Regions from separate parts of the Homo sapiens genome. Here regions 1 and 2 are each linked to region 3. The links come from fine-mapping of genetic effects on gene expression. A gene starts in region 3. Each other region holds a variant in brackets. All regions are shown on one strand. Distances are from middle to middle. Region 1 overlaps ELFN2 (extracellular leucine rich repeat and fibronectin type III domain containing 2). Region 2 holds the start of LOC105373024 (a long non-coding RNA gene). Region 3 holds the start of ELFN2 (extracellular leucine rich repeat and fibronectin type III domain containing 2).

What was found.
Region 1: its variant is fine-mapped to the expression of ELFN2 in whole blood (TOPMed, PIP above 0.99).
Region 2: its variant is fine-mapped to the expression of ELFN2 in fibroblasts (GTEx, PIP above 0.99).

What each region holds. Positions count from the first base shown.
Region 1 is chr22:37,399,743-37,410,199 of GRCh38, reverse strand. All of the region lies in intron 2 of ELFN2 (extracellular leucine rich repeat and fibronectin type III domain containing 2), which reads left to right. Among named protein-coding and RNA genes, the nearest start is that of ELFN2, 23 kb to the left of the region's middle. RefSeq lists an enhancer at 6,877-7,625. The variant C/G (reference allele first, on the strand shown) is at 5,850.
Region 2 is chr22:37,321,703-37,332,159 of GRCh38, reverse strand. LOC105373024 (a long non-coding RNA gene) reads left to right here and starts at 24. Exons shown (of 4, transcript XR_938232.3): 1 at 24-267. RefSeq lists a silencer at 1,358-1,652 and enhancers at 2,551-3,196, 3,644-4,843. The variant C/T (reference allele first, on the strand shown) is at 4,421.
Region 3 is chr22:37,421,954-37,432,410 of GRCh38, reverse strand. It overlaps ELFN2 (extracellular leucine rich repeat and fibronectin type III domain containing 2), which reads left to right and starts at 4,932. Exons shown (of 3, transcript NM_052906.5): 1 at 4,932-5,113.

The sequences.
Region 1 (10,457 bases), 22 kb after region 3:
TCTGCCCACCCATCTCTCTGGCCCTGCCCCGTCTGTTTGCCGCAACCGCCTGTCTCTCAGGCCGCAGGAGAGAGCTGGCTGGATGGAAGCTGGGCACACAAGGGCAGGTGTGTGTGTATGTGTGTGCCCTCGTGATCTTTGTGCATTTGCTGGGTTTTGGAGCATGTATGTGTAAAACAATGCATAAGTATACAAACCCCCTTATACCTGGGGAACTGGCACATGCTCTCGGCGTGCACAGCAGAAAGGAATGGGCCACTGCCTGTTCCCAAGGCCTCCTCCCCAGAGGCTGTCACTGACCCGTGTTTCCTGGTACCTACAAACACACGTACACCATCTGTTCTTACCCAGGAGGGATTCTCCTCGCAGCTGGCCCTGCACCCTCCTGCGGCCCCTGATTGCACCCTGAGCACCCTTCTCAGGGGTGCGGCGGGACCTGGGTCCTAATCCACTTTGGAATGGGCTTTTCTTGAAAGGACATTTCCCTGTTGTGAGTGCCTGGGCTGTTTGCACTTTTTCTACTTTCACCCACTTCAGATCTGAAGTGTCTGACTGCAGAATCAAGCTCCTCTGACCCGGCACGCTGCCCTGGGGCACGGGTGGGCTGGTTTGAGGGGATCTGCTTCCAAGGCTAAGTGTGGACATCTGGGCTCCTCTCGCTGTTGGCTGAGCACTTTAGGCAGGAGCCCATTCTGGCTGGGATTCCTGCCTGCGGGCTCCCTGGGACTTGGGGAAAGGTAGGGTGTGGGGGTCCAGGGCCAGGACCCCTGGCTGTCTCTGGGGACAGAGTACCCAGGGACTTGGAAGGTGGTGCCGGGAGACCACGCTGTTCCCTGCTGTTCTCCACCTGCTGCATCCCAGGATCACTGGGCACTGGGCTCCTTGGGGCCACAGGGAGCTGCTTCGGGGCCCAGGAGCTTCCCAGGGTCCTTGAGTGCCCACAGGAGTGCCCGGGCCTTCCGGAGCTGGGGGTGGGGCCGGGTAGGCGAGTGCCAGGCACAGAGGAGGGAGGTGCAGGTGATGGAGCAGGGTCTGGGGCCTGGTCCCTGGCCTGTGGCTCTCATCCCTTTAGTCTTCCTCACAGGCTGTCTTTCCGCCTTGGGGCTGAGCCTGGGCCAGTCCTGGGACTTTTTTGTTCCCTTGGCCAAGCTGGAGATTCCTTGATGCTGTAGGGAGAGAGCCCTGGACAGGGAGTCCTGAGTCCAGCGTTCGAATTGCAGCTCTGTCTCTTGCCTTCTGTGGAACCCAAGTGTCAGGCCATTCACAGAGTCAAAGGGAATCATATCTTCCTTATATCAACACACCATGTGCCAGGCACTGCTCTAAGAACTTTATAGAACTTAGCAAAATCCTCACAACAACCCAGCAAAATAGATACTGTCACCATCCCTACTTGACAGGTGGGGAAACTGAGGAACAGAGAGGTTAAAGATCCTACCCACAGCCACACAGCGACTCGGTGATGAAATCAGGATTTGAAACTGGCCATCTGAACCTGACTGCCTTGCTGTGTTGGGCGCCCTTGGCAATCCCTGGAAGGCCAGTTATTGGGCAGAGCTGGTTCAGGCGGGTGCCCTGGTTTGAGCCTTGAGAGTGGTCCAGGAAGAAGGTCCTGGCATATGGTAGGGGTGGCAGTTTGGGATCAGGCCCGATTTGAGTGCCTAGCTGATTATTTACTGAGCAAGTGACTTCACCTAGCGGAGCCTCAATTTCCCCATCTGTAAAACAGGGTTAACAGCACTTCCTTGGCAGGGCTGTTGTGAGAATTCCGTGCAGTGAGGCTCAGGCGCTCAGCACATGGTGGGCCGCTGCCAAGGCCCCATGACCAGGTGGGAGGGAGGCAGTTCAAGGGACGCCTGTGCCAGCAGAGCTGAGTGTATCCCCTGGAGTGCGGGCCGCAGATCCCGTGATTGGGAGCTGATGGGCCCTGGGGTATGTGATGCCCCACCCCTCTCATCATCAGGCACATACCTGTCTATCTGGTACATCCATTGTGCAGCCGGGCCCAGGACTGGGGACATGGTGGTCATCTGTCTGTGTATGTATAAATGTGTGGGCTAGACCGCAGCCCCTGGGGGGATCATGCAGACATTCTCATGCACACACCCGGCCTGGAGAAACTCGTGAGAACTCCTGCTTGTGGGACTGAATCAGCCTTGGACAGCATCTCATCCAGCTCCCGCGCTGTGTGCATGAAACAGAGGTCCAGAGAAGGGAGAGGGGTTGCTCTGAGGTCCTCCATGAGTTGGGATTATCTGCAGTTTAATTGCTGGGTGGGGCCTTTTCTCGCTTTCTTTTTTTTTTTGAGACGGAGTCTTGCTCTGTCCCCCAGGCTGGAGTGTAGTGGCGCGATCTCGGCTTACTGCAAGCTCCGCCTCCCGGATTCATGCCATTTTCCTGCCTCAGCCTCCCGAGTAGCTGGGACTACAGGCGCTTGCCACCATGCCCAGCTAATTTTTTTTTTTTAGTAGAGATGGGGTTTCACCATGTTAGCCAGGATGGTCTCAATCTCCTGACCTCGTGATCCGCCCACCTCAGCCTCCCAAAGTATTGGGATTACAGGCATGAGCCACTGCGCCTGGCCGCCGGGTGGGGCGTTTTCTAAAAAATGCTGCCATAAGCCCTACCTGTGGTGGCCCCATCGCTTGTCCACATCCTATGGGTGGACTCTCTACAGAGCACGTTCCTCTATCTGCCAAAGCCAAGGCACTTGTTTCTTGATTTTCGTGTTGACTCCCTGGCTCCCCCATCACAGTGAAAGCACTGTGAGGCTGGGGACCTTGTCTGTCTTGTTCACGAATGTGCCTGTGGTGCCAGCACAGAGCCGGCTGCATGATAGTAGGTGTTCAACAAGCATTTGTTGAAGAATAAGTGGCCCTGTGGTCACGTCTGAAATGATTTCCAAAAATCGTGCCCTCCAGCTCGCTTGTGGTATAGCCTGAATTTCAGAGGGGCAAGGACTTTCCCAGAGCCTGAGCAGGTAATTGAACGCAGGCTTCCTGGCTCCCAGTCCCGAGCCCTCTTGTTCTGGTGTGCTCATGTACACATACGACACACACACACACGCACACACACAAGCACACACAAATGCACACACCCAGTAGGCCATGATCCAGAAACTTCCCTCTGATCATTGCTCAATTATCCAGCTTCAAATTGTCCATCTGTCCTCTTGGCCAAGGCCATGGGCTGCATGCCTACTGGGGCACCTGTTCTGGGCCTCTCCCAAGCCTGTGGCTGCCTGGAGGATGGGGCGGGAACCTTGGGAAGGTGGGGCTGTCCAGGTGACCACGGGTGCATTGCCTGCTTTGCCCAGTGGACTCTGTCTCCTGCTTCTGACCACGTCTCCTTCATCCCACCCTGAAATTCCACCTGCCCAAGCCTCCCTGTCCCCCTGCACCACCACCCTCCCATTGCTGGGCTCTCAGGCTTTAGGGGAAAGGGGTGTCATTCCCAGGGACCAGCTTCCCCCTCAGCCTCCCCCAGGAAGTCTGCCCTAATGCCCGGGAGGATGGTAATTAGTATGAGGCAGGCTGATTAGCTCAGAAATTAAGTCTTTGTTTCCCTCGCTCCCCAGTTTCCCTAATTGAGCAGATGCAGAGCGGGGGACGGGAGGGGCTGCTAGTGGGTCACGGGGCTGGGGCGGCACACGCGTGGCTGTGTGCTTGCTGCAGGGGCGGTGGGAGTGGGGGGTGGCATGGATGGGAGGCACTGTCTGGGGGTCCCTTTGCTCTCTGCCCTTTCCCTGATGGGGGAGCGCCAGGGAGGGTCACCTGGGGGTGAATCCCGAGATGTGCAGCCCTCTGGGGTGTGATTGAGCTGACAGGCACCACACCCCGGCACTCCGTTGTGAGTGCTTGTATGCAGTCATTCGTCCCCGTGTCCAGGTCTTCATATCCAATCACCGATCGTAACTGCTGTCACTTGTTGAGCACCTGCTGTGTGCCATCACTGGACTGGACAACTTTCACGTATCACCTCGTTCAGCCCTCGGGACAATGGTACAGATAGGGGACCCTTGTTTTTTATTTTTCATTTGTTTTATTATTTTATTTTTTGAGACAGGGTCTCACCCTGTTGCCCAGGCTGGAGTGCAGTGGTGCAATCGTGGCTCATTGCAGCCTCAACCTCCTAGGCTCAAGCGATCCTCCCATCTCAGCCTCCAGAGTAGCTGGGGCTACAGGTGCGTCTCACTATGCCCAGCTAAGTTTTTAAAAAACTTTTTTGTGGAGACAGGGTCTTACTATGTTGCCCAGGCTAGTCTCAAACTCCTGGGCTCAAGTGATCCTCCTGCCTTGGCCTCCCAAGGTGCTCAGATGACAAGCGCGAGCCATTGTGCCTGCCCAGGACCACCCCCCCTCCACCCTTTTTTTTTTTCCTAAAGGGAGGAACCTGGGGCTCAGAGAAGTGAGATGACTTGTCCAAGGTCACACAGTTCGGAGAGGCCAGGAAAGGGTTCAGATCCAGGTAGTCTCATGCAGCCCTGTCTCAGGCTAAGGGGGCTATTTGGGCAGGGAAAGGGGATCCTGCGATCACGTGGTGGTCAGTTCAGGTCCTGGATGCTAGGTTGAGGCCTTTGTCTTTCTTGTTTCTTATTCGGGCATCAGCACATCCCCCTTCTTGGGTCACTGGGAGGAGCAGTGACAATAACTGTAATGACAGCAGTGATGAATTATTTAGTGCTTGCTATGTCCCAGGCAGGTGACCCATGCCTGACATGTTTTCTTATTTCATGTTTACAGTGACCCCATGAGCCATGGGGTTGATACCTTCACTATCCCCATTTTACATTTTAAGAAGCTGAGGTGGCCAGGCATGGTGGCTCATGCCTGTAATCCCAGCACTTTGGGAGGCCGAGGTGGGTGGATCACCTGACGTCAGAGGTTCAAAACCAGCCTGGCCAACATGGCGAAACCCCCTCTCTACTAAAAATACAAAAATTAGCTGGGTGTGGTGGAATGCACCTATAATCCCAGCTACTCAGGAGGCTGAGGCACAAGAATCGCTTGAACCCGGGAGGCGGAGGTTGCAGTAAGCCGAGATCACGCCATTGCACTCCAGCCTGGGCAAGAGCGAGACTCCGTCTCAAAAAAAAAAAAAAAAAAAAAATGCTGAGGTTCAGGGAGGTGAGGGGCCTTGCCCTGGTTCCACAGTTGGTAAGTAGGGGACCCAGGATTCAGCCCAGGGCCTGAGGCCCAGTCCTTCCTTCTTGATCACCAGCAGGTAGCTGGAACTCCTGTGTCTCTGGGGCTCAGCTAAGGATCTGGGGGGATGGCCCTCCTCACAACAACCTATGTGGTAGGTATTGCTTTTATTCTCATTTTACAGATGGGGAAGTTGAGGCTCAGAGAGGTGAAGTGACTTGCCAAGGATCCCATAGCTGGTGAGGTGTTGGGTTCGGGCTTTGAACACAGGCAGATGTGGCAGGCTCCTGAGCACCAGCATCCACTCCCAGCTGCTGCACCTGTCCCTGAGCGCTGACCCTCCCAGCCTGGGTGTCAGCCGCTGCTGTCGGGCCAGCATCTTAACAGCTGTGTGCAAGGGATGCCTGAGTCTCCATCCTCCACTGTCACCTGCCTCTGGCTGTAGGACATTGCGTGTGGCCACCTGCTGACTGGTCACTCCTTTGGGGTGTTCCTCTGACCCCTAAAGCTCAACTGGCCCCACCCGGGCTCTGCCTCTGTCCTCCTGCACTGCTATTTGCCCATTCTCTGAGGCTCCCTGTTCCAGGGCAGGCACTACGCTCACTCAGCCACCCACCCAGACCCTGGGTGGCATCCCTGAACTCCCCCCTTGGTCTCTCTCTCCATCCTGCCCGACTCTCTTCGCTAAGCCTGACTCAAATCTGC[C/G]TTCATGTGCCCACCCTGCTGTCCTTGCCTGCACCAAGTCACCCTCCAGGCCCGTCTCGTTGCAGCCTCCTCACAGGCCGCTGGCGCCATTCCCGCCCCTCCGATGCATTCCAAACCCTTCCATTGGTGTCACCCCCCCAGCATGTCACTGGCTCCCCACTGCCCTTGGGCCAAGATCCAGAACCTTGAGATCTGCAAGGAGTTGGCTCGGCCTCGGGGCTCCCTCTCCTTCTGATGTTCCATTTATCTTGATCTCAGTTCTCCTGACCTTGTTCCAGTTCCTCAAAAGTGCCACCTTCTGGGTACCACATACGTGGTTCCCTCACCAGAATCACCCTCAGCAAAGCCTTCCTGGACCCCAGGACAGATGAGGCCCCTCAGGTGTCCTTGTGCTGGGGACGTCCCTCTCTTTCTCCCAAGAGCCCTTTGAGGGGAGTGGTGTTGCCCATTTTACAGACAGGGAAGCTGAGACTCAGAAGGCTAAGCTGGCAGCCAAACCCAAGGCTCTCTCATTCTGGGGCCTGTGGTCTCCTCGGCGTGTGCAGGTGCGTGTACACGTGTGCATACACGGCGGGCACCGCCGATGGCTGGCTGTGTGAGACCTCGTTTGGGCTGAGATGATGAGCCTCGTTGGGGAGAGGAGGTCCCGGATGGTCTCTGGGTGCCTGGCCTGCCTTTTCTGCCTTTTCCTGTGGTGGGGGTGAGGGCCTGCTATGTGAATTTGGGGCGAATGTCAGCCCCTCGCTAGACCCCGAGGCCGCAGCCTCCCAGGCCCTCTCGCTTCTCTCCCTTTGCTTCAAAACAAACACCCGGGAGCCCAAACCGCCCATCCAGCCAAGGCACAGATGGAGTTGGAATTAATTAGTCCTGTTGCCCAGGCAACCGGGACCCAGACCAGGATCCAGTCTTCTCTCGGCCCATCCCCACCCTCCGGCCCCTCGCTCGCCTTGCATGGCCCCGCCCCTTAGGAGCCTGGCCCTGCCCTCTGCCCTAGGGATGCCCTCGGGGACTCCTCCTAAATTGGGAAGGTGGTGGTAGGGATGTCTAGGAGCTGGGTTTCACTCTGGGCTTGGTGGGACCTTGGGCAAGTCCCTGCAGTGCTGGGAGCCTAGCTTTGTTCTGCAGAATGAATGGATGGACAGGTGCACCTGCCTGGGGGTGGGGGGAGGGGCATCATGGAGTGATACCTCATGGGGGACTTGCGATTGGTGAGAGAGGGAAGAATGAAAGTGGCCTCAGCTTGGGATGTTGTTGGGGAAGATGTAGCTGGTAGTAACTGGGATAGGCTGCGGCTATGGCTTTTTCTGCTCGATGCCAGCAGGAGGGGGCAGTTGTGGGCAAGTGAGGCATGGTCTCTGGCCCGGGCCATTCTTGGAAGTGGGCTCAAGTGGAGGATGTGGAGGAGACCTGAAGGGAACAGGCCACCTCTAACCCCCGTCTCCTATCTTTCAGAGTCCCCAGTGCTGTGCTCGGTGCACAGCAATGCCACCCTGGCTTGGCATGCCTCGGGTTGGCTGGGACGAGGCCCAGCTCATGCTCTGGCTTCTGCTCAGCCTCCTGCCTGGTCCTGGGACCCACCGAGCCCCTGGAGGCTGAACACCATCTCTCCTGCCACCTGCGTAACTGGCCATTTATTTGCTCCTCCAGCTGCCAGGGAGGCTTCCCTGAACCTGTCGTGGTGGCACAGGGGCTCAGGAGAGAAGACAGGCTGGGACTGGTGGCTGCACTCTCACCTTGGCTCCACAGCCCCTTCCTTGGGAACTGTGGGCAAGTTGCTGCCCCCCTCATGAGCCTCGGTTTCCTTATCGGTCAGCTGGGCCTAGTGATGCCTCTAGTGAGATCACCAGTTGGAAAGGCTTTTGAGAGGCAAGAACTAGGGGTGGGAAACTCAGACGCTCACCGGGGCCGGGTCACTGCAAGGCGCACGTCTGGTCTGTGTAGGGCAATAGGGTGTGGTGGGCCTGTGGCAAACTCCAGCGGTCAGTTTGGATGGCATCAAAACTCAAATGTGTGTCAACACGGAGTCTGCCAACAAAACCGAACCACAGGCTGCCTTTGGAGCTGCCAGCTTGCCCCGGAAGACAAACTCTACAAATGGATTAACCGGAGGGTATTTAACTCTTCTTTACATAATAGCATGGGCTAACATTTATTGAGGGTTTGCTCTGTGCCAGAGACAACTAAGCACTTTACTTGGATTATCTCCTCTGATCCTCCCAGGAACCCCAAAGCAGGCAGGGTGCAGCTACTGTTCCTACTTCATAGATGAGGCAATTAAACCACAGAGAGGTTAAGTCAGGAGCCCAAGGTCACACAGCTGTGGAGGAGGGAGCAGGGCTCACTCTTGGGCCTTCTGATTCCTTATCTGGGGCTTCTTCCTTCAGCCTCCCTGGGGCAGGTTGAGGCAAGGGCAGACCCCGCAGGCAGGGAAAGATGGAAGACGGAAAAGACAAGCTTTTCCCTTGTCGCCAAGGAGGCTGGGGGCGGGGAGAGGAGAAGCAAAATTAAACAAACGAAGGGTGTTGTGGAGCTGGGGAAGAATAACTTATTTTTTATGGGCTTGTTAACATTTGTGAAGTTAAGTAAGCAGAAATTTATGCCCCTCGTTTGCATGCATTAAAGGGAGGGCTGCCGGGCCGGCTTGGTTACTGGGAAACCTCACGCGCCTCCTAGGGCGGTGGCCCCCAGGCTCGCATTAGGCAGCTCCTGTGCAGGGATGGTTTGTTTGGGCTGTTTCTAGTGATTTCTGCAGGTCCAGCTGGGGCCGTGTTTCCTGAGGGCCCACTGTGTGATTGGCCTACCCTGGCTGCGGCCTCCTCCCTCCCTGCTGGGAGTGGAGCAGCTGGCCTGAATCCCATCACAGTGGCTTGGCCCTTAGTTCACTGGCTGAATGTTCTAGAAACTGTTCCAAGCCTCCTCAGGGACCTGAGAATGTGCAGGAGGCCCCATGACCACCAGCTTTGCTGCCTAAGAGCTGTGAGACCTGAGGCATGTTGCTTTGGCTCTCTGGGCCTCAGTTTCCTCATCTTTAAAATGAGGACAATGATAGTGTTATATATACTGCCCAACTGTGTGTCCCTGTCTTAGACACTGCCCACCTGAGATGACACTGGCTGGTTGGGGAGCTGTGCTCCCTTTGCTAGTTGACCTGCTTTTTGGAGACCCTTTGTCTCCAATAGGCCTGAGAGCTAGGTGACCCTTCCTCTGGAAGACCAGGCAGCCCCACCTGGCCTAGGCCCCACGGCCCCCGCATGTTCCGCTTGTAATTCCTGGTACCCTGTTTGACTGACTCCCTTGGAGCCGTGGGCTTCCTCAGGGCAGTGCCATGTCTGTTGAGGTCATTGCCAGTCCCCTGCACCGTCCCCAGGACTTGGCACAGAGCCAGGACTTGAGAATCGGTATGAAATGAATGACTGAATGAAATACTTAACCTGTGACCGTTTTCGCCACTTAGGGATTACAAGTCCCTTCCAGGTGTGTAGTGATTTATGGGTTTTGAAAGCACTTTCAGGCTAATGCCCTCGTTTGATCTCCACCTTTAGATCCCTCTACAAGAAGGCAAGGCAGGGCCTGTGTCCGGCATGGACTCTCTCACGCTTTTATTTGTTCAAGGAAACTCTTGAACTCCTGTTCTGGGCCGGGTGCTGGGACCCTGGCGGGGAGTGAGGCCATGTCCTTCCCTCCAGGGGCTCAGGGGCTGCTCCCAGCAGGCGTGCCCACCGAGGGTGGGTGGGGAGGCTGAGGGGGCCTTGGGGAGTCCTGGCACCCCTGCAGGCCTCAGGCTCCCATCTGTCTAATGGGTGACAGCGAAGAGGTTTAAGCTCTTCCAATTCTGCCAGGCTGTGATTCTTGGTAGTCAGGTTTGGTCACCAGGCACCTGCTAGGAGGCCCTAAGATGCCAGAATGCCTTTGCCCCAGCCCTGCCCAGGCAGCCCTGGCCCTCCAGGTGGCTGAGGTGCTCCTCAGGCACAGGTGTGTGGGCCTCCGGGGGTGAGGGGAGGGGACAACTGCCCCTGCTGCTACCCCCAGGCCCGTGTCAGTGGGGGCAGCTCTCTGTCCACAGTGGGAGTCGGCCTGTGGACAGAAGGTGAAGTCTGATTGGACCGGAGTGGGGTGGGATGGGGGTAGACACGAGGGGGTGGGTCAGCATCTCTGAGTGGAGTGGAGGGTGGTTGAGGCCCCTGACCTGGGAGGATAATAACCCCGCCTTTCCTTACATTCTTCTCCCTTGCACTCCCTTGCCCCTCCCGGTTTCCTAGGGACCTGCTGCATGGGCTGGGGACGTGGAGGGCTTGGCCTTTGGAGGCAGGGAGGGGGTGGTTGCAGGCCTCACCCTGCAGCAGCCTGGCTTTGGGCAGTTGTTTCCCTTCTCTGTGCCTCAGTTTCCTCCTCTGTCCTTTGCGAATGATGCTGGTTTGAGGGTTCAGTGGGTGCTGAGGAAGCACGTGGTCAAGCTCTGCAAGCCCTTCCTTCTTTCATTTACCAGGAGGAGCAAGGCGGCCATGGCGGGGAGGTGGTGGCTGGAGCAAGTGAGTGAGGTGGGAGGTGAAGAAGTGAAGTCTGGGAAGATTTTGGATACTATTCCAATCTCATGGGAGCCAGCAGCCG
Region 2 (10,457 bases), 100 kb after region 3:
TTGACCCCTGCTGGGCTGGACTTGAGGTTCACGGCCACATGGTTCCCTGTGCAGCGCCCCGTGGGTCCCAGCAGACACAGCACCATAATGGGAGACTTCTAGGCCGAGAGGGCAAAAGCTTCAAACAGCAGGCGGCAGCACCAGCTGTGTGGTGGCTGGGAGCTGGTCTAGCCTCCGCCTTCCTTCCAGAAGTCTCCCCAGCATCCTCAACCAGGTCAGATCCCCCAGCATGACTCAACATCCCTTCGACTTCCCTTCTGCAGCCCTGTAAGTGCTGGGGGTGCTGTATGTGGTGGTGGGCACCTGGCATGCCAAGTTCATAGCAGGTGCTCTGTCAGTGCAGAGCTGGGCACTAGTGGCCCAGGGTGACAGGCTTTGGCTGGCTGGAGCAGGGCTGGGTCAGGGTCGGGAGAGGCTGGGCTGCAGCAGAGACAGCTCAGGTCTGAGTCAGACAGACCTGGGTTCAAATCCTACCCATCCCTCCCAGTGTTGGGGTAGGGGGCAAGTTGCTGCCCTTCTCTAAATCTTATTTGTAATTTGCTTTCCTGGGCTGGTTATTAAGAATAGTAGAATTTGTCTTCTACCTTCTCCTGGCAGGTGGATGCCTTAGCTCAGCTCCAAGGGACAGTTTTGGGTACTGAGAGGGAACAGGGATGGGGAAGGTGGCCTCCCTTTTACTGAGTCCATACCAGGCCCTGTGTTAAGCTCTTTATGCACTCTGAGTCCTCATCACTCCCTTGTAAGGCAGGAGTAATTCTTTCCATTTTCCAAACAGAGAAACTGAGGCTCAGAGAGGTTTCCTGGCTTGCTTAGTCTCAGCAGCGAGGAGCCAGTTGTTGAACGTGGGGTTGTGTGACTCAGAGCCTGGGCTCTGTCCAATCCCAGCTGGCAGTGGGGGAAGGAGGGGCCTGGGCGGGAGGCTGCAGCTGGGCGTGGGTGGGCAGGTGGGTGCAGAGGCCCATAGATGCTGGCTAATGGGCCCTGGTGGGCCCGGCGCTAATGGGCCCTGGAAGTGCCAGGCGTAGATTTAGTGGGAAGGCAGGTGCTGGCTGCAGTGGGCCAGGAACTCTTCTGCCCCTCCTTTCCCTGTCCCATTCCTCAGGCCAGGGAGGAGGGGGAAGGAGATGGGGGCTCAGGGAGGGGGCATGCACCTAGCTTTGCCACTGACCCTACAGCTGGGTCTCAGCTTTCCCTTCTGCCCAATGGGTGAATCATTCCCTCCCCTCAGGTTTTGTTCTGAGTACCAAGGGCCATACTCTGTAGGAATGAATGCTGTAAAAATCAGGGGGCCACTGAAGTAGTGACCCCCACCCCAAGAAAATGCTCTTTCTTTGGAGACTCTCAGGGCTTTAGGGATAGAAGCAGGTGTGCCCCAATTATGCCAGTTTCCCTTTTCTCCTCCCCGCCCCCAACCCCTGGCAGTCCTAGGTGAGGGACCGCACAGCCAGGCCTGAGTGGGTGGGTAGGTGGCGCTGGCGCAGCCAAGAAGTGCCTGCTTCTGATTGGAAGGCTGGTTTCCATGGCGACCGATTGATTGCCCAAGCTGCAGACTCAAGGGGAATGAGCAATGGGGCCTTTCTCCCAAGCTTCACTGCTCAGGCTTGGGCCTGGAGGCCAAGGCAGGGGTGACATCTTTGTGTCCTGTCAGGGACAAGGGGCCCACTAGGGAACAGAAGGGCACCTCAGCCCAGAAGCCACCACTGGGCACCTGCTGTGTGCACATTCTGAGCTAGCAATGGAACAGGAGGAGGGGACCTAGCATTTATGAAGCAACTACTATGTGAAAACGAAGCTGCTGGGACTAGAACCTGGCCCAGTGGAGTCCCAAGCCTGTGAGCCTAACCACCAGGCTGTGATGCTCGTCCATGCTGCTTGTGAGGACTAAGCACATTTATGGGACACCAGCAAGCATCCTTGGACCACCAGACTGTAACCCCGCTCACACCAAGCTCTGAGGGTGAGGGTGAGACAGTCATTGCTGAGGGAGATCAGGGCTGGGGTGAATGTTGGAGGAATTAGGGAGGAGGATTAAATGTTTGGGGTGAGGGTAGGGAAATAAAGGCACCCCAGGCAGGGCACTGGCTTGGGCAAAGGCAATGAGGTGGAATGAGCTGGCCGTGTGGCAAGAGTTGGCCCCTCCACCTGTGATGTGGACTCGAAAAGGAGGGGCGGCCGTCTCTCTGATTGTTAGCTATGCAGGCCTGTGCCAACCACACCCTACCTCCCCTTTTACCCCTTTCCCATGCCCGTCTTCCCACCTATTCTGTCCATTCTGCCTCCCCCTCACTGGGGCCTGGGTGAGTCCCTGGCCCTCTGGCCACAGAGGTCCCACCGGCCAAAGGAGAAGGCTGGCACCAGTGGGGCTGCCTCCAGGACTCCAGCAGGGGATGGTTTCTCCCCGTCCCCTCCACGGTCTCTTCTCAGATTCCTTCTTTCTTCTTTCTCTCCCTCTTCCTTCTTCCCTGCACGCACCACCCCCTCCAACAATATTCTCACTGTCTCTTTTCCTGCCCTGGGGGTGATTTTGTCCGATTGATTGCCCAAGCAATCTGAATTGCTCTGAATCAGAAATCTGACTGGTCCCTGCCCCAGCCCCATCTCCATCGTGAACCCCATCCCCTGGTCCCACCCTGCCGCTGCCCTGCTCCCTGGCTCCTGCCCTGCCTGGCTCTGTCCCTCTTCATCCCAAACTCTCACTTGGCCCTTGGTACTCAGGACAAGACCTGAGAGGGGGAATGATTCACCCATTGGGCAGAAGGGAAAGCTGACACCCAGCTGTACAGTCAGTGGCAGATCACTGCCCTGCTCCTATCCCTGCTCTGCCCTGCCTGCCTGCCCCGTCCCTGTCTAGCCCCTCCCAAGCCCTGGCTTCATCTGAGCCTCTGCCACAGTCTTAGGTTCCCAGATGGGCTCGCTTAGGTCCTGGCCTCATTGTCATTCTGTCCACGCCAGCATCAGTCGGTGGCTGCAGGCACTGTCGGGGGTGAGGGGGAGAGAGAGAGAGAGAGGGAGAGAGAGAGAGAGAGGGAGAGAGAGAGAGAGAGAGGGAGAGAGAGAGAGAGAGAGAGAGAGAGAGAGAGGGAGAGAGAGAGGGAGAGAGAGAGAGAGAGGAGGAGAGAGAGAGAGAGGGAGAGAGAGAGGGAGAGAGAGAGAGGGAGAGAGAGAGAGGGAGAGAGAGAGAGAGAGAGAGAGGGAGAGAGAGAGAGAGGGAGAGAGAGAGAGAGAGGGGAAGAGAGAGAGGGAGAGAGAGAGAGAGAGGGAGAGAGAGAGAAAGAGGGAGAGAGAGAGAGAGGTTGGGGCTGCAGGTTGCGGGGAGCTGTAGGTCTGCTCTCTGAGCCTCCTCTCAGAAGGACAGAAGTGTTGTGTACAGGCTGGAAATAGCTGTCCATTATTGAGTACCTACTGTGCGCTAGAGAGGTTACAGTATCTCTAACCTCACAGCAGCCCCAGGAGACAAGTAAAAGGGACTCTTCCTCTTTACTCCAAGAGCCGAATTGACATCTCCATAGTAAACATTGGCAGGATTCATTTGGGACCCAGGTCCTCCTGGTCAAAGCCCCTGCTCACTGCCTTCTGCTGTGGGATTTGGGAAATGGGGTAGCTGGTCCCTACTGCAGGTGCCCCTGGATTGCTGAAGCCCTGTAAGATCTCCAAGGATGGCCAGGGCCCCCACAGGCACAAATGTGGGTAGGCTAAGGAGGAGAAACAGGGAGGGGGAACTGCATGAATGGAGGCTTGGAGGCCAGGACTGCTTCGGGAAGACTGTATGGGAGATGCAGCTTGAGACAAGGTTGCGGGGGTGAACCAGAGCCATTTCATATAGGGCTTCAAGACTTGAAGACCAGGCTGGGCCTTGACAGAGAGAACCTGGGAAGCATCTGAAAGTTGTTGAGCCAGGGAGGGAGATGATCCCAGCTATATTAATTCCTTCCTTCCTCCGTTGACTCATTTATTAAAAATTTATTGTCTTCTCCGCGGCATGCCTTTGCTGGGACTGGTGATTCAGAAATACTAGTCATAGGCCGGATGCGGTGGCTCACACCTGTAATCCTAGAACTTTGGGAGGCCGAGGTGGGTGGATCACTTGAGGTCAGGAATTCAAGACCAGCCTGGCCAGTATGGTGAAACCCCATCTCTACTAAAAATACAAAAATTGGCCGCGTGTGGTGGTGGGCGCCTGTAATCCTAGCTACTTGGGAGGCTGAGGCAGAAAAATCGCTTGAGGTGGAGGTTGCAGTGAGCCATGATTGTGCCACTGCACTCCAGCATGGGCAACAGAGAGAGACTCTGTCTTAAAAAAAAAAAAAAAGAAAGAAAAAAGAAAAGAAATACTAGTCACAGTTCTGGCCCTCAAGAGGCTCACAGGCTCACCAGGAGAAACTCATGCATATTCATAAAGGTACCAAAGTCCCACTGGTAC[C/T]GAGATAGGTTTGTATACTGGGGCAGTGGGAGAAGGGGGAGAGACCTGGAATGGCTTCAAAGGCTTTGGTCCTGAACTAAGTCTTGGGGGTCAAGTAGAGGATGCAAAGCCCATTGGACTGGGAATAAAGAAGGTTCCAGGCAGAGAAAACTGAATGGGCAAACATCTGGAGGCTTGATACAACCTGCTGGGCTCAGGGAAGTGCTAGCAGTTTGGGTGTTTGGTGGAGGGGGGTGGCTCAGCACCTGTGCTGCACTGGGGATCCAGGGAGGAGGCAGGTGACCCTGGCTACAGAGTCGGGGATGAAATGAAGGGGGGAGCAGGGAGACCTGGAAGGAGATGATGGAGGCTAGAGTTGAAGGAATGGAGAAAGACTGCAAAATATCCACCCATCCATCCATCCATCTAGAAAATGTTTGCTGAGGCCGGGTGCGGTGGCTCATACCTGTAATCCCAGCACTTTGGGAGGCCGAGGTGGGCAGATCACCTGAGGTTAGGAGTTCGAGACCAGGCTGACCAACATGGTGAAACCCTATCTTTACTAAAAATACAAAATCAGCCGGGCATGGTGGCGCATGCCTGTAATCCCAGCTACTTGGGAGGCTGAGGTAGGAGAATTGCTTGAATCCAGGAGGCAGAGGTTGCAGTAAGCTGAGATTGCGCCATTGCACCCCAGCCTGGGCAACAAGAGTGAAACTCCGTCTCAAAAAAAGAGAAAGAAAATGTTTGCTAAGAACCAGTGTGGGGCAGGGATTGTGCTGGGTGCTGGAGGTGGAACCGGTCAGGCTGGGTCACTGACGGGAGAGGGTGGCTGGAGGCCAGGTTGATAAGCTTGGAGTGAGGACAAGCAGGATGAATGGGGGCAGGGGATGAATATCTTGAGTTCAAAGTGCATCCACCCAGGTAGCCGTGATTCGGGATGGGGAGGCAGCAAGCAGCAGGGGCTTGGCAAAAGTCAAAGGCATTTCTTTTTCTTTCTTTCTTTCTTTTTTTTTTTTTTTTAGACGGAGTCTCACTCTGTTACCCAGGCTGGAGTGCAGTGACACAATCTCAGCTCACTGCAACTTCTGCCTCCTGGGTTAAAGCGATTCTCCTGCCTCAGCCTCCCGAGTAGCTGGGATTACAGGCATGCGCCACCACTCCTGGCTAATTTTGTATTTTTAGTAGAGATGGGGTTTCTCCATGTTGCTCAGGCTGGTCTTGGATTCCTGATCTCAGGGGATCCGTCTGCCTCGGCCTCCCAGAGTGCTGGGATTACAGGCGTGAGCCACTGCACCGGGCCGGTCAAAGGCATTTCTAAGATGGGTGCTGCCAACTGTGCTCAGGGCTTTCCCAGCCTTCACTTCATCCTCACTTAATGGCATTCCCATCTGTCCAGGTGAGAAAACCGAGGCGTAGAGGCTTCATCGTTGCCCCATTATTGCAGGGATGGGCAAAGCTTTTCTGGAAAAGGCTACATAGTAAATATTTTTGACTTTACGAGCCATGCTTCTTGGTCAAAACTATTCAACGGTGCCACCGTAGAGGGAAAGCAGCCATAGACAGTACCAGAAATAAGTGGGTGTGGCTGTATTTTAATTAAAAAAGTGGATGAACATGGAAATTCAAATTTCATATAATTTTCACATGTCAGGAATTTTTTTTTTTATCTTCAGAAATAGAAAAAACCTAGCCGGGTGCAGTGGCTCATGTCTGTAATCCCAGCACTTTGGGAGGCCGAGGAGGGTGGATCACCTGAGGTCAGGAGGTTGAGACCAGCCTGGCCAATATGGTGAAACCCCATCTGTACTGAAAATACAAAAAAATTAGCCGGGTGTGGTGGCCCGTGCCTGTAGTCCCAGCTGCTTGGGAGGCTGAGGCAGGAAACTTGTTTGAACCCAGGAGGGAGGGGCTGCAGTGAGCCGAGATCGCACCACTGCACTCCAGCCTGGGCAACAAGAGCGAAAACTCCATCTAAAAAAAAAAAAAAAAAAAAAAAAAAAAAAAGAAAGAAAGAAAAAGAAAAAGAGAAAAAAAAGAAAAAAAAACATGCTTGGTTTCTGGTTGTACCATAACAGTTTGACAGGATTTGGCCTAGGGGCTGTAGTTTGCCCACCCCTTGGGGGATGGTTGGGAGGTGGCAGAGCTGGGGTTCAAACTAGGTTCTGCGAGCCCACGGGCTTCTGGACCAGATCAGCTCCAAGTGTGTGCCGGACCTCAGCCCCCTGGTCTTTCCCTTTCGGGTTGGTTCTCCCATCTTGGGATGCACAGAGCATCCTGCTTCTACGCTGCCCATTTTGGGCAGGAGGCAGTGTGCCGGGCAGGCCAGGGGATCTGAATCCCCCAACTCGGAAAAGGGTCCCCGCCCAGCCACTTGCCAGCTTGGAAGACTGGAAACCTCTCTAGGCCTCAGTTTCCCCACCTGTAAAGTGGGGCATAGCAGATAACTCACCCGCAGGGTCGCCGTGAGGCTGCAGTGAGAATATACCTTGAAACGTCTCCCCACCCCGCGGCTGCCTCAGTTTCCCTCCTCCCCTCCTTGCCTCTGAGCCTGGTCTACACCTGCGCCGCGGCCTCTCCCACCTCCCCCACCGCCGTCCCCCTCCTTAATGCGGAGAACGACATCCTGGGTGTCTCCCAGCTGCCTCCTGCGCACGGACGGTTTCTCGAAAGCTTTTAAAAACGAGGCTCCCTCCCGGCGGCGGCAGGGAGGGTGGGAAGGGGGGCGCCCACCCTCGGGAGCTTCCCCGGTGGGCGGCGGCGGCCGCTCCCAGCCTTTTCGGGAGATCTCTGGCTGATTATTATGGAAATCAGGCCCCAGCAGCGCGCCCGGGTGGCGCGGGAGCGGGAGGCGCTTGGTGCGGCTGAGACGCGCTGAGGACCCGCTCTGCCAGCCAAAGGAGCGGTGCGGGGGAGGGGGCGTGGGAGCTTCCCGCGCTCCTGGGACACGCGTGGCCTGTTCTGGCCCGGGTGCCCGGGTGACACTGTTCCCGCGCAGGGCCGATGGGCTGAGCTGCAGCCGGAGGGGCTGGGGTCGCGCACGGAAACCTGGGCGCCCAAGTCTGGGAGTTCATTTCCGCCGGGACCTGGGCCCTTGATATCAGCGGTGCTGGATATTTTCAGTGCAATTAAAGGCAAAGGCAGTGGGGTTCACGCCACCACCCCAGGAACAGAACTGGGGCGTGTAATGAGCTCAAGCCCTGTGTACTGGGCGCGTGTACTCGGCGTCCAGCACCGACCTCAGGGCGCTGATCTATTTAAATCCTTCCGTTGACTTGGGCATGGTCAGGCCCATTTTATGGATGAGACAACAGAGACCCAGAGAGGCAAAGCTCACACGGCCAAAGCAGTCGAGGAGAGACCTGAGCTGGGAGTTGTCCAACTCCTCTGGCCAGTTCTTACACCTTCGGTCATCCTGTCTCCAACCTGAGGATGATGCCTTTGACCTTCCAGCCGCGCATCCAGCTCTGGCCTGCCCTGTGCCTCTCTGCGGGGGGACTCTGCAAATGGGGAGAGAGACAGCGTGGCTAATGTCGAGGAGAGCTGAGGGTGGTGGGTTGTCCTGGTGCTGAGGGGCTCTTGGTTTCTGACTATGCCTTCTATCACCACCACAGGGTTTGAGTTGAGCCAGGATCCCCCACCCCCACCACCCCTCAAGGTGCAGGAAATCTCATCATTCAAAATCCATTTCCTTTATATTGTCACATTCTGGAGAAGGGCTCCAATCTAAGCTTAAAAGTGATAGAGAAAATAAAAATGGGAAAGTCAGATGGATTCGGCCACTTTGTAAGCCAGAAAAATGGCCCCAGCAGACAGGTGAGCAACAGCTTTGGAAAAATCTCTAGCAATCAAGAACGGCCATGGGGGTTTATCTTTGCTCTGTAATGATCCCAGGCAGACGGAGAGGAAAGGCAGAGAAACCTGCAGGTGAATGGGCAAAGGGCAGGAGCGATGATTCACACTAGAAAGGAAACACAAATGCTTAACCCTCACAGGGAGAAAGTCCATTCCCACTCAGATATGAAAGGAATACAAATGTTAATCAATGCAGTTCCATTCAAACTCACAAATATTTTAAAACATAAAGTTATTTAATTTACCGCTGAATAACTGTAACTATTTTTAACTGAACTCATGGTTACCCTGGTAGTCCATCCTCCCAACTGCTCCAATTCACAGATAGGAACCTAGGCTAAGAGAGGCTAATTGCATAATTTGCTCCAGGTTAGACCTCTGGTGAGTAGCTGAGCAGGGTCACCTGTTCGGTGGCAAAGTGGTGGCATCTGGCCGGGCGCGGTGGCTCATGCCTGTAATCCCAGCACTTTGGGAGGCTGAGGCAGGTGGATGACCTGAGGTCGGGAGTTCAAGACCAGCCTGACCTATATGGAGAAACCCGGTCTCTACTAAAAATACAAACTTAGCCAGGTGTGGTGGCACACGCCTGTAATCCCAGCTATTCAGGAGGCTGAGGCAGGAGAATCGCTTGAACCCGGGAGCTGGAGTTTGCAGTGAGCCGAGATTGCACCACTGCACTCCAGTCTGGGCAACAGAGCGAGACTCCATCAAAACAAACAAACAAACAAACAACAAAAAAACCCACAAACAAACCACACACACAAAAACGCAAAGGTTAGGCTTCATCCCAGCCCCCGTGGATCAGAAACTCTGGCGCTAGGGACCAGCAATCTGTTTTAAGGAGCTCTCCAGGTGAGCTGGAGGCTACAATTAGAGAATGACTGCTCTGGGCTCCAGGAGAAGGTAAGGAAAGCAGGTACGTGCTTTCGCTGCAGAAGGCAAATTGTATTGTTTCAACCTTTTTGAATTACCTATGGATAACAGGTATTGTGAGCCTGTAAACGGCCACCAATGGCACCTCTGAGAAGCCACTGAGAAGTAGACATGGTTTTATCCATGGAGGTATTTAAGACAATGTATTTATAAACATGGAATACTGGAAACAGTCTGAGTCTCCAGCAATAGGGGACTGGGGAGAGAAACCTTGGTTCATCTAAAAGATGGCTGCTGTGCAGTTTTGAAAAGTGAGTGTGTAAAGACCGCACAACGTGGTACAATAGGAGCAGACAAGTCCTCCTGGGTTGCCCAGGACTTTCCCAATTTTAGCACAAGAAGGCCGGCATTTTGGAAAACTCCTTGGTCCTGAGAAAATGGGGACAATTGGTCACCCTAGCTATAATCGGCACTAGTGCCACACCCCAAGTATTACTGTCCTCCCATGTTGCATGGCCGGTGGTAGGATGGTATTTCATCTGGCCTTGCAGTGAGGTAGCTATGTGACATGTTTTGGCCAATGCAATGTGAGCGGAAGTGGCATGTCACATCCAGACAGCGCTCCTGGCAATTCATGCCAGGATGGCACCTCCTCAGCCTAGGTCCCTGAGTGACTATGATAAGCAGAGACTCCATGCCGATCCCTACCCTGCAATCCCAGGGCATAGGGTGTGAGCAAGACATAACCTCTTGTGGTGTGTGAAGCCACTGAGATTTGGGGATATTTGTTGCCACAGTGTAACCTAACCTGTCCTGGCTGGTATACACGTGGACATCCGGATTTCATAGTTTTAAGGCTTAAGTGTTAGGCCGGGCATGGTGCCTCACACCTGCAATCTCAGTACTTTGGGAAGGCCGAGGCGTGCAGATCACTTGAGGTCAGGAGTTCGAGACCAGCCTGGGCAACATGGTGAAACCCCGCCTCTACTAAAAATACAAAAATTAGCCGGGTGTGGTGGTGCATGCCTGTAATCCCAGCTACTCGGGAGGCTGAGGCAGGAGAATCGCTTGAACCTGGGAGGAGGAGGTTGCAGTGAGCTGAGATTGTGCCACTGCACTCTAGCCTCAGGGACAGAGCGAGAATCTGTCTCCAGAAAAAAAAAAAAAATTGGCTTAAGGTTACAAAACTGCATTTGCAGTATCATTGCAGAGACATAACAGGTGTGTTGGAAATATTCTGAAATGTTTACAAAATTATCAGGTAGAGGAATTCTTGGTCTAGGTTTTTTTTTAACTTTTAGGATTGGGATACATGTGCAGGTTTGTTATA
Region 3 (10,457 bases):
GTAGGGAGACTGAAGTGGGGGAGGGGGCTCGTAATGTACACACCACAGCAAAAGAATGTCAAAATCCTTCCTAGAAATACATGTGTTCTTCGCAACTAGGCCTCCTGGGCGGGTCGGCTTCCCTCCCTGTCACCTTCCTCCCGACTTGTGGTCTCTTCTCTCTCCTACTCATTCTCCCCCAGGCCCCAGCATCTGACAACTACCTTCATCCTTGCATGCCCTGACCTGTCACAGTGACCAGAAAAACAAAACACTCCTAGATAAGAGGACCCACCTTCCCCAGAAGGCAGCTCAGCCCCCATCTCTTCCTAGTCCACTTGGCAGGGTTCCACCGTGGGCAAGGACCACGCTTTGCCTTCCAGGCCCGTCTTTTTCTTCCAGGCTCTGTCTCACCACTGGCTCCTGTCCTCAGCGAGCTGATGTCCTCAGTTCCAGTACTGGAGGCGCAACAGAAATGTGATTTTAGGTCTGGATCCAAAGGAGGAATGTGACACCCCGCACAAGCTCTGGGGTGTGTGTGTGTGTGTGTGTGTGTGTGTGTGTTTCTCTGAAAGAATCACTTTAACCTAATTTTCTTAGCATCAACTCAAAATGCCACTGAGACCAAGTGAAGAAAATTTCACCTAAGTACAAAGGGTAAATCTTGTTATTCACCTTAAACAATGCGTGAAGCTTTTAGCATTTCTATGTTCCTCTCACTCTTCCTCCTCTGTTCTCTAAGCTTTGAAGAAAGGACGACTTTCTGGAAAAAATGTCTTTCTAGTGACGTGGCCAGGGCAGTGGGATCATTTGGATGTGGGCCATGCTTGTTCACCTTGAAAATAAAGGGCACTTTCTGGTGAGCTGTCAGCCAGGGGCAGCTCCTGTGCACCTCTGGGAGAAGGCCGAGCAGATGGGGTTCTGGGATGCAGGGCAGGTGCCCAGCCCACCCATGTCACCTGGCACTGACATTTCGAGGATGGTTCTGCTCCGGTTAATTTTCCTGTGCACGCGTCACTCCACCCACAGCGCAATTAGCCCAGCTGAGGGCAGGAAGTGGTACCTGGATTCACATTCCTCCAAGACTGTCCATGGTGGTGGGGAGAGGAGAAATTAGGGCGCTGGTGGGAAGGGGGGGTGGATGCTGTGTGCCCGGAAGAGAACCTCCTAACGTCTAGATTGGTGGCTTATTAATAAGAATAATGTGTGAAAATGGCCTTGCACAGTGCCTGGCCCTGAGCGAGCCCCTGACACATGGTTGCTACTTGATAGAGGTGACCAAGTGAAGAATAAGCTGGGGGAGGTGGACACATAGAGAATGAATAATGACATGATGTGATGTGTGCTGTCACTGAAGCCTTGCAGAGTGTTCTGGGAGCCGGTGGAGAAGGAAGTAGCTCAGCCAGCTCAGTTTAGGAGTGGTCAGGGGAGGCTTCACTGAGGAGGCGGCTTTCAAGCAGTACCTGAGGATAGGTAGAAAGTAGACAGGTAGGGAAGGGATCTGAGAGGAGGAAAGTCCTCCCACATCAAGGGAACAGGATCAAAAGCACAAAGGTGTGAAGATGATGGGGTGACAGATCCAACTCCATCTTCTATATGGTGGCAGAAAGTGAGTCTGGAAAGGGCAGATATTGGTGTTGCTGGGACCCAGAACATATGTGGGATGATATTGAAGATGCTGGAGGAATAAATAAGGACCAACTGCAACGGGCCTTATTTAGGCAAGTTAAAGAGTTTGGAGTTTTGGTCAGGTGCGGTGGCTCATGCCTGTAATCCCAGCACTTTGGGAGGCTGAAGCAGGAAGATCACCTGAGCTCAGGAGTTTGAGGCCAGTCTGGCCAAAATGGGGAAACCCCGTCTCTACTAAAAATACAAAAATTAGTCAGGCATGGTGGTGGGTGCCTGTAATCCCAGCTACTTGGGAGGCTGAGGCAGGACAATAGTTTGAACCTGGGAGGCGGAGGTTGCAGTGAGCGGAGGTTGCACCACTGTGAGTGGAGATTGCACCACTGCACTCCAGCCTGGGTGACAGAGAGAGGCACTGTCTCTAAAATAAATAAATAAATAGTGTTTGGATTTTATCCTGTAGCAGAGAGGGCTTACCATTCATCTCTGTATTTATTCCTGAGGCAGACATCACCAATTGATCATGCCATTTTCTGCAAAGGGTGAGCACCTCTAGGCAGCTGCTGCCAATCACTTGTCATGAGAAAGAGAACATATTTGCCTCTGTGCATGGGCTCTGGGGAGCTACTGGAGGGTTTAAACAGATGGGTGGTGAGGGAGTTTGTTGCAGGTATCCAGGTGACGGCAAGCCTGGTCTGGGGCAGTGACTGTGGGAATGGACATGTTATTGCTTACGTTTGTCTCGGTCTTAACCATTCAGCTACGGATTCTAGGCAGTCTCCTGAGCTCCCCGCTCCCCGCATTCCCAGGTCCTCAGGGTTCCCTGTGTGTGTGTCTGTGTGTTTGTGTGTGTGCATTAGGTCTGCCTGGGCTTGATTTTAATAAGGAGCTTGCTATATGTCTGGAGCTGCACTATCTCACATGGCAGCCACAAGCCACATTATGGCTATTTAAATTTAAAGTAATAACAATTAAAATTAAAAATTTAGTTCCTCAGCCACATTAGCCACAATTCCAATCACTCAATAGCCACATGCAGTTAGTGGCTACTGTCTTTGACAGTGCAGACATGTATCCTTTCCACTATGGTCTAGAGAAAGCCCAGTCGAGTGTCTAGATGGTGTGGTCCACTATGACCCTCAGGCCAGGCCAACTCTATCTTCTATATGGTGGCAGAAAGTCAGCTAAGAGCTGAAACTCTTGTCAATGTACATCTGCCCAGTAAGGGCAAAGTCTCCAAAGGGAGATTCTTAGACCGTTTTAGAGCTTCAAACAAATTCTGACCAAATCCAGCCAGACCTGGAGGTCTCCAGGGAGAAGGGAGTGGCCGGCACTGTGCTGGGGGTACTGGCTGCTTTTGCTATATTTCTTTCACAAAGGAGGAAACAGGCTCAGAGAGGGTTGTGACTTGCACTCTGGAAGATGACTGGGAATGTCTCGGAAACAGAGCAGCAAGAGGCTGTTTTGCCACTGACTCCCTGGTATTCTTTGGGGTCATCACTGCTCAGTTTCTTGGGCAGGAGCGGATTAGGTGGCATCTGCCAGTGCCCATCTCAGAAAGTGTCTGGGCCTGAGAGCCACAGGGGGGCTGTTGGCTTGGGGAGCACTCTAATTTCTCGAGGGATCCGCCAGAGGGCGCAGAGGCCGTTATGTTCCGCCTGAGGGGCTCTTCCAGCAAGGTCTTGGAGCTGGGACCCTGCTTCTTGCCCAGCCTTGTCAGGGATACACACCATGTGTTGGATACCGCCCCTGCCCTGTAGGAGGGCTCAGTTTAGAGGGCAGAGACAGCACATGGCTTGTTTGGGTTTGCAGCGAGGGACCTTGAAGGATGGGTAGGAGTGTGCCAGGCAGCCTGGGGTGCAGGTGGGGAACGCCCAATAGTCCTTCTGCATACCCCAGGACAACAAGTGGCCTGTGACCCAGTGCTTGTCTGCCCTCCCAGCCCCATCCTGGGCCGTTCCCTGTTCTTAGTTGAAAGGAGGGAGGAATTTCTGGACAGACGTTCTTTCTGCTCTACTAATACCCAACTCCGTGGAGTTCCCTGTACACACATACAAAGCTGTTTCATGCCTCTGTGCCTCTTTGCACATGCTGTTCCCAGAGTCCAGGACACCCTTCTCCTCCTTCTTTAGCTGGCCAACTCCTACTCATCCATCAAGATTCAGCTCAGGCAGTGGCTTCTTCTGGGGAGTCTCCTTATTCCAGACCTGCATGAGATGTCCCGACGGGGAGTTCCCGCAGCCTGGACTTCATCTGCTGTGCAACACCTGAGAACAGGCGCTGGTGCATGCGGTCCTATAAAAGTGATGGAGAAGTACAGGGCCTGCTGGCAGCAGGCCTCCGACATGCAGCTCGCAGGGCCTCGGGAGGAGGTGCTTGCATGCCCAAGCACCAAGTTATAGGCCCCGGGTGCCAGGCTTCTTGCATCTTCCACCTCCTCCTCCTCCTCCCAGCATCCACCCCTTTGCAGGTGGCAGCAGGTGGCAGGGGCTTTGGCGTAAGGGGCGGGGAACTGGGCCTCTGGAAGGCTAATGAAGGTTCTCTAGCTACAGATGAGCCCAGTATCCCTTGGACCTACTCCTGGAGGGGTGGGGAAAGGCAGTGAGTGCCCTGGCACAAGGTAGGGGAGCGTAAAGTCTAATACTGTCTGTAGGCTCCCTGTGTAACCTTGGGGGAATCACTCCTCTCCGAACCTCAGTTGTCTGGCCTGTAAAATGGGAACGCAGCAGCCGCACTTCCCCAGTCGCCAGCGGTTGAACGCGGGACCAACCAGCAGGGCGCAGGCGGCAGGGCATGGAGGTACAAGGCGGAGAGGGGGCCCATCAGCGGAGGCGGAGTCCAGGGGGAGGGCGAGTCCAGGCGCACTTCGGGCGGCCCCGCCGCAAGTTTGCCCCCAGCTGTTGAATGCGCTGGCGGAGGCCGGACCCGGACCCGGACCCGGATCCCGCGGGGTGAGCAGCGCAGGGGGCCGCGGCCGGGACAGGGGTCCGCCAGGCCGGGGCTCGGGTCCGTGGGGCCGCCTTCGCCTCCCCGGGCGCTGCAGCTGCAGCGGCGGCGCCAGGCGCGGCCCCAGCCCCGCGGGCGTGTGTCTGCGAGCGCGCGTGTGTCCGTGGAGCGTGCGGCCGGCTCGGGGGCGGGAGCGGGCTTGCTGCGGAAAGGCCTGCGGAGGGCACCGGGAGCGGGCGGGCTGGCGGACGGACAGACGGGGACGGACAGACGGACACAGCCTGCCGCGGTCCCTGACGCGCGCCGCTTGGCCCCTCCCGGGCGCCCTCCCCGCCGAGGCAGGGGCAGAGGCGCGGCGGCGGGGAGGAGGGGGCGGCGGCGTCTGCGCGCACACGCGCGCTCCCAGACACACACACAGACACACGCGGGCCACCCCACGGCCACGCACCCCGCACCCACACCCGCGCTCACACTCACATTCACACTCACACTCACACGCGCAGGCCCCGCGGCCGCCGCTTCCCGGAGGCGGTGCTTGGCCCGGATCCCGGCTGGGGCTGGGGTAAGTGAATTCCTCTGGATCCGAGCGCCGCGACCGACCGACCGGGGAGACGGTGGGAGTCGGGGCTGGAGCCGGAGGGCACCCCCTCCGTCAGTGGGGGTGGGGCTTGGAGAGGGACACGGAAGGGGGGATGAGACGGGGAGAGCCACCCCCAGTGTCTCCTGGGTCTGGGGATCCCCGTGAGACCCCCGGGGGACCACCCTGCGCGAGGGAGGTGGTGGTGGTGGCGGTGGGCGGAGGCGGTGGGAGGACACCGAGGACGGTCGGTGAGGTGAGCGTTTCTGGGGGTGGTGCAGAGGCTCGATGGTGGACGGTGTGCCAGCCGGTGCCACACTGCACCTCTCTGCCCTCATCTTTTCGAATCGGGGGCCCTAACCCCTCTCTTTCACGGGGTGCTGCCGGGTCAAGGCATTCATCCTCTAGCTGGTAAGAGGGGTTGACGGGGTGGATGCCTTCTAGGGGAAGGGGGGCCAGGGTGGGGCTTGACGGCGGTGGGGTTGGTAAGACCAGAATTGGGGGGTGGGGACCCTTTCAGAGGCGCTGGCCAGGGACAAGGAGGGAGGCAGCCCAGGGAGGCGGCATAAATCGCAGACACTGCAGCTCTGGCAGGGCCGGGGCCACTGCCGGGTGTGTGTGTGTGTGTGTGTTTGTGTGTGTGTGCGAGCGCGTGCCAGTGTGTGTGTGTGCGTGCGTGTGTGGGCTCCAGCAGCTGTCAGGGGACGGGGAGGGGGTGGGTGTGTTGGCTGGTGGGGCGCCGTGTGCATGTGGAGAGGATTGTGCGTGCTGTGTGTGTGTGGTGTGTGCGTGTGTGTGTGGACATGGGGTGGACCCTGCTCTCTGTCTGTATACACACAAGCGCACACACGCACACTGTCAGTGGCCTGGCAGGATTTCCTCGGAATGTTTGGAGGGAAGGGAGCTGATGTGTGTGTGTGTGTGTGCGCGCGCGCGCGTGTGCATGCACACTCGGGGAGCTTGTGTCCAAAACAGAGGCCACAGGCCATGGTGTGTCAGGCGTGCCCAAGGAGGGAGACGAGAAGGGGACAGTGGTGCTGACCGTGCACTCAGCTGGGGAGGAACGTGGTACTCGGCACTTTCTGCAGCTCAGGGCTCTGTGCTGTGCCCCTTCCCCCTGGACTCCTCCCACCCAGCAGCTGCGGCTGGAGGGCACTGCCTTGGTCCCTTGCTGAGACGCAGGTGTTGGGCTGGAGTGTGTGTGTGTGTCTGGGCTGCGGCTGTCGCTATCAGCAGGCCAGGCTGTCGGAGTCAGAAAGCTGGAGGGAGTGGGGTGCTGGCAGCACCTGGAGGAATGTGGTGGAAGCTGTGGGGCGCGGACTGCCCGGCGCGGTTACCGAGAGGCGTTTTAATATGCAAGTTGCATCATGAGATGGGACTGGGAGTGTGTGTGTGTGTGTGTGTGTGTGTGTATGTGTATGTGCATGGCTGACACCCCTGTTCTCGTGGCCCGTGGACACCTGTGGGACGTGTCACGTCTGGGCCATCAGCAAAGCATGTGGGCATGTGTGTCCCCTGAGAGGGGTGCACAGGCAGGTGCTGTCCTGATGAGCCGGGGGCCCTGCAACTGTGTGGGTGGGGAGGTGGGTACCTCTGGGCCATCAACGCCTAGGCAGGAAGAAAGAGTGTTAATTGTGGGGACATCAGGAAAAAGTATGTATGTGAGGTCAGTGAGAACCTCAGGTGTGACATAAGCTCCAGGCCGCAGGTGACGTCACTGGGACAGTTTTGTCGGAGGTTGCTCCCCCCAGCCAGAGTGTGTAAATGTGATGTCACGGGAGTGTGTGTGGCCGAGTGTGGTTATGTCTCTTGTATATGAGGGGTGGGAAGGGGAGAGGGATGGAGCCTTAGGACGCGTGGCGTGGTCCCTCCCAAGAGGCCGCCTTTCCCAGCATCCTGAGTGGGCATGGGACCCCTTTCCTTAAGTCCTGCCCCCTGAAGAGTGCACCTTCCAGGACTGGAACCCCCGAAGGAGGTTCTCACATCAGCACCATTGGCTGCTGAACTCCTTTGCCAGGTGGGCCTGGAGGCCTCCAATGTGCTGCAGCCCCCTATCTGACCTCCCCAGTCCCTGTTTTCCTCTTCATCCCAGCCAGGCCCACCACCCCTGGGTGGATGTGCTTTAATGAGTGAGTGTGTCAGTGCATGTGACAATAGAAAATGGCCATAGCCAGGGAGCGTGAGGCCATTGGTTCGAATCCCATTTTGCTGCTTTCTGTGTTTTGTGATTTAAGCATTCGCGTCGCCTCTCTGAGCCTCAGTCTCTCCTCTGTAACATGGGGTGAGGGGTTAGAGAGGTGAAGGGGGTTAAGGAGACCATGGGCCTTGTGGGGGGCGGGTGCTGATGCCTGGCATATGGTGGGGGCTCAGTCCACGTGAGCTCTGTCCTCTCACCTCCTATCCCCCTAGCCCAGAGTAGCTGCTTTCCTGTTTTGGTTTAAGTCTAACTTTGCAAAGGACTTTCTTTTCTTTCCTTGGATTTCCACGGCAGTTCTTTGAGGTGGGTGAGTTAGCCACTATTATGTGGATATTTGACAGATGAGTAAACTGAGTTCTGGAATAAGCTGTCTGTTGATTTAATGTGAATTCCATCCCCCCCCCCGCCGCCCTCAGTGGCTACAGGGAGACACATTTGATTACCCAGCCCCTTCTCGAGGGGTACCTTCCTTTCCTGGAGAGATATGGAGCTATGAGGAATTGGTGGTGGGGTGCCAGGTGATGAGCCCAAGGCCAAGAGTCTCTGGCTGGAGGAGAGGCTGCTCTTGACTCCCAGGTCAGTGCTCTCTTGCTCTTCCACCCACAAGCTCCAGAAACAGTCAGCGTGATAGGAACGGGCACACTCAGCAAGCCTTCTCCAGTGGGGCGTGTCTAGGGCGGTCACTGGGGGCTCCATGCCTGTTCCTCAATATCCCCTGAGGTCTTGTAGGATGCTTGTTTTTGGCAGCAGAATTGGGTTCCAGTGACACCCCTGCCGCATCTGCATCCTGGCTGTGTGTGACAGAGGTCAGCCTCTCCTGTCTCTGTAAGAGGGTGGTGGCAGCTTCCCTTGCGGGTGTGATGTGTGAGTGTGAAAGGGTGACAACCGTGTGCAGGGCTGGGAGGCACACATTGCTGCTACCCTCACCTGCTCCGGCCACAGTGCCTGGGGGCCAAGCTCCTCTCTCGGTGCCCCCACCTGCCCCATGTTGTGACATGTGCTGTGTGGAGTGGATGGCCGAGAAGTAGGATTGCCTCGAAACCTGACGCTTCTTAGCAAGTTAGACCTCTTCAGGAGCTGTGTTAATCGTCTAGAAGGTTTACCCAGTCCTCTGCCTCCTGCCGTCCCAGCCCAATCCCTGATTAAATTAACCTTCTCTTGGCTCAATTACCACCTGGGGCAGAGGCATTGACATTATTACTGGAGATGGTGTCTGGGGGTTGGAATAATTGAGCCCCCTCTCCTTCCCCCTAGCTCTGCCGACAGTCCCCAGGAAAGCCCCAGAGAAGCCCTGAGGACTCAAGAGCCACCTGGGCAGGCTTGCTTATGCCTGGGGTGCCAGAGGAAGGGTGCTGGCTGCACGATGCTGCTGATTGAAATAGTAATAACTATAGTGATAATAATAATAATGATATCAGCTAATATTATTGAGCCCCTACTGAGAGCCAGGCCCGGTTCGAAGCTCTTTATGGGCGGCATTCGTTTAGTCCCACAAAAGCCAGCTGCAGCAGGCACTATTATTATTCCTCATTTTGAAGACAAGAAACAGAGAGGTTACAGACCAGTCCAGGGCCACACAGCGATGGAACCAGGACTGGAACCCTCGAAGGGAAACTCTCACATCAGCACCATTGGCTGCTGAACTCCTTTGCCAGATGGGCCTGGAGGCCTCTACATCTTGGCCTACCCCTCTCACTGAAGGCCCTTTCTGGGCCTTGCTTTGCTTATCTGTAAATGGGTGCAGTGACCCTGCCCTAGGGAAGCTGGGGGTGGCGGACGCCCTTTGCTTTGGCTGCAAGGAGAGACAGGAAAGGAGGGGCCTCGTGGGTGGTGCCTGCATCTCAACCCCCCATCCCATTCCCCACAGAGATGGGACACCCCCAAAGGCAGCCCTTTGCTCCCTGGCCCTCCCACAGTGCCTCGAACAGCAGCGCTTGGAGGGCTCCCCCGGGTGACAGTGGGGAGGTTGCCCCAGGATCAGTATCTTCTTCAGGTCCCGAGTCTATCGTGGCCTCAGCTGTGGCCCCCTGGACTCCCCACCTGGCCATCTTGCTTGTGGAAAGGGCAGGGGCAGGGCTCCAAATCCAACCTCTTTTCCTCCTCGGTGTGGGTCCTGGGCAAGTCACTTCCCCCCCCCCCCCCGAGGCCCAGTTTCCTCAATATGAAGTGGGGACAAAAGTACCGAATTCTTGGTTGGGCGTGGTGGCTCACACCTGTAATCCTAGCACTTTGGGAGGCCGAGGCAGAAGGATCACCTGAGGTCAGGAGTTCGAGACCAGCCTGGCCAACATGGTGAAACCCTGTCTCTACTAAAAATACAAAAAATTATTCGGGCATCGTGGTGCATGCCTGTAATCCCAGCTACTCAGGAGGTTGAGGCAGGAGAATCGCTTGAACCCAGGAGGCCCAGGTTGCAGTGAGCCGAGATTGTGCTACTGCACTCCAGCCTGGGTGACAGAGTGAGGCTCCGTCTCAAAAAAAACTTCCCCAGTAGCTGGGATTACAGGCACACACCACCACACCCGGCTAATTTTTGTATTTTTAGTAGAGACGAGGTTTCACTATGTTGGTTAGGCTGGTCTCGAACTCCTGACCTCGTGATCCTCCCTCCTTAGCCTCCCAAAGTGCTGGGATTGCAGGCGTGAGCCACTGTGCCTGGCCAGAACAACAACAGCAACAATAAAACAACCAAAAAACAAAAAAAACGAATTCTTAACCCTTCTGGGTTGTCTTAAAGGTCATGCTAAAGGTTAGGTAAGAGAAGACCACGTGTATAACATCCTGTCTGGCATGCGAGATGCCATTATTTTCCTCCCCCTTCCCATCTGCCCCCTCCGTTCATTCCTGGCTTCCTGGAAGGGGTCTGCACTGTGCATGCATGTGTCTGTTTCTTTCCCATCCTTTTCACCCTCTGCTTTTCACCGCCTGAAGTGCATGGGTACTGCTGGGGTTGGGGGCGCCTAAGGATGCATGAAAAGAGCCTGGGTGCTGCCAGCTCTTGTGACTGTTTGTGTACACTGGTCACCACCTCTCTCAGGGGGAAGTAGGGAATGAATCCCAAGGCTGCCTGACCAGCCTGCCGTGGGCCTAGTCCCAAGACTCAGGCCTGACTCAGTTTCCCTCCTTGGCCCA